Regions from separate parts of the Homo sapiens genome. Here region 2 is linked to region 1. The links come from fine-mapping of genetic effects on gene expression. Tissue or cell type: tibial nerve. Region 1 holds a variant in brackets; the other region holds the start of a gene. All regions are shown on one strand. Distances are from middle to middle.

Region 1 (2,681 bases):
GCAACACCAATCTTGACCAAAAAAAAACAAAAAACAAAAAAAAACTCTCTTCCCCCGTGTTTGTAGTCACTGACCCAATTATTTAGTGCATAGTACTTTGCTTCTGAAGCAAGATTCATGCCCTTTGCTCTCTATGGTTCCTCTAACCACAGTTTTCTTGCTGGCTGGTCTAGGTTCTCAAGAAGGAAAAGGAGCAGACACCTACCTATGGCAAAGATGGCAGCCTGTGCAAAGTCCGCAGACACATCCGTGCAGTACCCTCGAAGCTCCTCTAGCACCTGCTGCACATTCTCATCGTTCACCAGTTCACACAGCACCTCCACTTTCTGTAGTTTGATGTAGTGGGGCTCCGAGTAGGAGCAAAAAAACTTTTTGTAGTGGCTGCTAAAGTGACCTGGTAAACTATGCAAGATCTGGCGTACATGACAAAGAGCAACAAAACAGAGCTCACGGCTCTCTGAAGAACAGGCAGCTAGCAAAGGTCCCTTGACCCGCACAAGGACATCAGTTTGTACGTGGGGAAACATTTTTGCCAAGATCAGAAAAAGTTTGGTAGCTCCCATCACCACACCTGGGCTACTGCTCTTGAGGAAACTATCCAACAGATTGAGAATGTCAAATAGTTCTTCCTCACTGCGGGGTTGGTAGCGTAGCAGAAAGTTCAATACTTCAGCCTGGCCCCATTGGTCCAGTTTTGACATTCTATCCAAAAAACAAAACAAAAGAGCTATTTTAGCAACAAAATTAGGACCATTTCCATGCCACTGCCATATGACCAGGTGGTTGTTCATCATAGCAAAGGGAGAATTCTTAAAAATAGGCTGTGCCATAATTAAGTCACTTTTCATGTACTATTTAAAGTTTACACAAAAAAGGCTTAAAATTCCAAGATGAGTTGTTAATACAAATGCACACTCCTCTAAGACCAAAGACATGATCAGCATACACTGGGTCCAGGTTCCTTACATTTTAAGACACTATAAATGGCTTAGTTTGGGGGACATGACTAGAGAAGGGTAGAACCTATTCCCACAGTATATTTCTATTTCCCTATATCAATAAGGGAAAGTAAGGCAAATAAAAGAAATTCTCTCAGTGGAATGTGAGGGAGTTAATAGTGGTTAACTGGCCGGGCGCAGTGGCTCACGTCTGTAATCCCAGCACTTTGGGAGGCTGAGGCGGGCGGATCACCTGAGGTCAGAAGTTTGGGACCAGCCTGACCAACATGGTGAAACCCTGTCTCTACTAAAAATACAAAATTAGCCGGGCATGGTGGCGCATGCCTATAATCCCAGCTACTCGGGAGGCTGAGGCAGGAGAATTGCTTGAACCCAGGAGGCGGAGGTTGCGGTAAGCCGAGATAGCGCCATTGCACTCCAGCTTAGACAACAAGAGCAAAACTCCGTCTCAAATAATAATAATAATAATGGTTAACTTTCTTTTCTACCCCACATAAGTTGTTCAATACTTTAATACATCAACAAGATCCCACAAGGTAGCAGATCTCATAATAAAAAGAGTGCTGAGGCATCCAAACCGATTTAAGAGATGGTGAGCAATGGGCTTATTGATGACAAC[G/A]CCTCCTTCCTGTTTCAGAATTTCCTCTAGAGACCTCAAGCAGTTCACAACTACAATTGGATCCTGGTCACGCAGCAAACTGTATAATTCATTTACCAGGGCACCATCTATAAAAAAGAACAAAGTTCTTAGATAAAGAAGGAAAGCTTCAGAGTAACAAGGATGTAGCCAGAGTAATAGCTCCAGGTAGACAAAGTTGAACTTCTCTGCTACAAAAATGACAAAGGCCACACTAAAGTGCAAGGCAAAAAAAAAACTGCCATGTCCAGACTGTTCTAAGCAGCTAATACAAAGGATCTCATTGGGGCCCCAGAGAAAGGACTTCTCATCTCCAGAAGATACCAAGCCCTGCATCCTACTTAAAGAGATATGTACAGAACTGGGGCCACATTATTATTTTCTACCAAAGCCACACAATCTTTTTTAAAGTTATACATAATGGAGGCACATTGACCATGATGGATTACACTGAACTTACCTACTTCAGAGTCTCCATGAAGATTATGCATCTTGGCACATCCAAGGACTGCCACTCTCCTGACATATGAAGCCTTATCCCGCAGACCATTGAGAATAGGCTGTTGTATATACTCCTGCACACCAGGCATCCTAAGCAACACATCCTGGAGTTAGCCAGATTCTGAAATACTAATTTTGACATACCTCAGCCCCTGTTCACCTAACAGATGGTTTAGTAGATGCTGCACCCATCAGATCATGAAGAATTGCAGAAAGCCTCTATCAAGCTTAAAAAGCCATAATTTGACTTTTCTGTTTTTTTCTTGTTTTTTTCAAGATGGGGTCTCACTTTGTCACCCAGTGGCCCGATCATAGCTCACTGCTGCCTTGAATTCCCGGGCCCAAGCCATCCTCCTGCCTCAGCCTTCCTAGTAGCTGAGACTACAGGTGCGTGTCACCATGCCCATTTAATTTTTTGTAGATATAGGCTCTCACCATCTTGCCCAGCTGGTCTCAAATTCCTGGGCTCAAGCAATCTTCCTGTCTAAGCCTCCCAAAGTGCTGGGTCTACAGGCATGAGCCACTGTGCCCAGCCTAATTTGACTTTTCATTTGGAATAATGATGCACAGGCAGCAAAAAAAGA
Region 2 (2,681 bases), 89 kb before region 1:
ACAGAATCAAATGCAACTGAAATTCCGGCCTCTACTATCTACTGCACAAATTCCCACTTTTCAGAGGCACTGTTGGTCCTATTTCCTAGTATCAAAGGGTAGAGAAAACCTTCCACATGCCTATTCTAAGAATTTAAATAGCTAATATGAAAACTTTAAAATGATTTTTACCTCTAGATTAAAAAGAACCAAGATAAACTGCGTCTGATATTTTACCTTGCAGAAGCTAAGTCAACCAGTGAGTCGTGTAACCTTTATATGAATTCCCTCCTGAAAGACTGGAACCATACCCCTGACTATTCTGGAGCAAGGGAGAGCAGATAACTAAAGCTCTCCAGCAAGCAAAACAAGGAGAAGGGATTTTAGGAACATGCCTTTTCTTTGGAAAGGCATTTTTTAGTACCCCACCTACTAATCTAACGCGGCGCGGAAACCTTGCAGAATTTGAAAACAAATGCTGAGAGGCTCCGGGGGACCGGTAAAGGGATTAGCAACTGACAGCTCGGCCTCGGAGCGAGAAGCCTCAAGTAGTTAGATCAAACCGTGTCAACGATCTGAAATCCAGGGTCCACCCCAGTGAGCTTAGAGAAGTACAGCAGCAGAAGGTAAGCAGGGGTTTGGCGTCTTTCAGTCCTAAAGATGCGGGATATCGGAACTGAGAGAGACCTAGAACCCAAGCCGGGCAGTTTGCCTGCTCTCACCTCTCTTGGGGGCTTTGATCAGAGGCACCCCTCCAGTCCTCTCGCCGTTTTCCTGCTTGTCCTTGTGCTTGAGATCGGTTCCGCAGGAGCTGGGATCACCATCGGGGCCGCGGTGGTGATGGTGCTTGTGCCGCTCCTTGTGGCCCTTATGCTTGGGCCCGGCCGCGCTCACCGTCAGAGGCGAGAAGGTGAAGAGGGCCGAGGTGCTTGGGGCCGGGAGAGGGGCAGCGACAGCGGGCCCGGCGGGTGCCAGCGAAGGTGGCGGCGGAGGCGGCAGGAGAAGAGGCTCAACAGGGCCTGGGACAGTTGGGGCTGCATTCGTTGGCGGCAGCGGCCCAGGATGTTGGCGGCTGCGACGCCGCCGGTGAGGGGGAGCGAGAGGGGGCTCCTGGCTCGGCCGCCCCCGCTTCTCCTGAGACCCCCCACTGCTAGATCGGCGCTGCCGTTTAACTCCCCGCGGGGAGACCCCAGCATGAGGTTTCTCCTTCCCCTCTTTGTCCGGCTCCTCCTGCGCCGCCACCGCCCGTACTACGCGCACCGCTCCGACCTGCGCAGCCATTTCACCCACAAACACACATTTAAATGGCCCGACCGCCCCCCCGTCCGCGCATCGCGCAAGCGCCGCCCGCGCACTGCCCGCTGGGCATTGGAGTCTCTCCTCCGCCCTCCACTTGTCGGCCGTTCTTCGTCCAGAGATGAACATGCCGGAAGCGGCCGTTCCCAGCTTTTCTCCGCAGGCCTCTCCAACCGAGCTTCTATTGTAAAGCACCCTATGCCGCGCAAAGCGTCATGGGAGCTGTAGTTCCGCCGCGCCCCCGCCGCGTCCCCGGCTCTGAGTGGAGGAGTGGAAAGGGAGCGTGCGCGAAGTCACGCTTCTGGCTGCGACGCAACCGCCGCTGGGCGGTGAGTTGCCGCCAACCGCCCTAACGGCCGAAACAATGTTAATGGCTTTCAGAGTCTGGCGGCGCGTTCCCATTATCATCTTCCTGTGACCCTTCCTCATTTTACACGGAGGAGGTGGTCTCCACAGTGATTTTAAATTTAATATTTCTCTCATAACCTTTGTGAGATAAAAGAATCTTCATCCTTTTAACTTTGACGAGGGATGAAATGAAGGTGAAAAGAGGATTTAGTAATATGTAAAATAAGGGTGGTTTTGCTGTAAAAATATGATAGGGCCGCAATTCAGAAATGTTTTCAAGCATCTGGGGCATTGCTATGGTTACAACTACAGGCCTACGAAGTCAGGTGCGAGAACTGCTTGGAGTCCTGGTGAGGACGGCCCCTCCTCGCCATCCGGCCACATCCCCTCTAATGCCTGGAAATGTCCAGCATTTATTTTGAATATATCCCTACAGTTGCGAAAAATTGTAGATGGAAAACCACGTTTAAGATTTTTTATAAGTTTTTTTTTTTCAAATCTTAAGGATAAGATTGCATAAATTTGAAAAGTGTGCCTACCGGAGAACACACCAAAAATCATCACTGCTCACTACGGATAGTTGTTGCTCAGAAATTCATTTAGAATTTCATCCTCGCTTTAGCTTTTACCTGGGGTTCTTTTAAGTATTTATTTAGAGACGGGCGGGGCGGGGCTCGGTGTCTCAGGCCGGTAATCCCAGAGCTTTGGGAGGCCGAGGCGGGAGGATTGCATGAGGCCAGGAGTTCCAGATCAGCGTTGGTAACATAGTGAGCCTCTGTCCCTACAAAAGTATTTTTTAAATTATCTGGGTGTCGTGACACGCGCCTGTAGTCCCAGGTACTCGTGAGGCTAAGGTGGGAGGAGTGGTCGCACCACTGCACTCTGGCCTGGGTGACAGATCTAGACCCTGACTCTTAAAAAAAAGAGACAAGGTCTCGCTCTGTTGACCAGGCTGGCCTCCAACTCCTGGGCTCAAGGAATGAGTAGCTGGGTCTACAGATGCACTCATGGTGCCCTAAGTAACTCATGGTTACCTAGAATTCTTTTAGTATATTTGT

Which allele goes with the higher level. Alleles are on the strand shown, and positions count from the first base shown. SD is a standard deviation of normalised expression in the study named.
With allele G in place of A in region 1, the expression in tibial nerve of the gene that starts at base 1,604 in region 2 is lower (small effect, 0.30 SD a copy in GTEx).

What was found. PIP is the estimated chance that this variant, and not a neighbour inherited with it, causes the effect.
Region 2: it holds the start of AP4B1-AS1, and the variant in region 1 is fine-mapped to the expression of AP4B1-AS1 in tibial nerve (GTEx, PIP above 0.99). The same link has a PIP of 0.9 or more in sun-exposed skin.

What each region holds. Positions count from the first base shown.
Region 1 is chr1:113,899,699-113,902,379 of GRCh38, forward strand. AP4B1 (adaptor related protein complex 4 subunit beta 1) reads right to left here. Exons shown (of 10, transcript NM_001253852.3): 3 at 2,057-2,187; 4 at 1,538-1,685; 5 at 206-702. AP4B1-AS1 (AP4B1 antisense RNA 1) reads left to right here. Exons shown (of 5, transcript NR_125965.1): 5 at 174-1,539. Among named protein-coding and RNA genes, the nearest start is that of AP4B1, 3.8 kb to the right of the region's middle. The variant G/A (reference allele first, on the strand shown) is at 1,579.
Region 2 is chr1:113,811,009-113,813,689 of GRCh38, forward strand. AP4B1-AS1 (AP4B1 antisense RNA 1) reads left to right here and starts at 1,604. Exons shown (of 5, transcript NR_125965.1): 1 at 1,604-1,817. RSBN1 (round spermatid basic protein 1) reads right to left here and starts at 1,468. Exons shown (of 7, transcript NM_018364.5): 1 at 702-1,468. The coding sequence starts at 1,404. RefSeq lists enhancers at 279-808, 533-592, 743-832, 809-1,338, 1,213-1,602 and 1 more.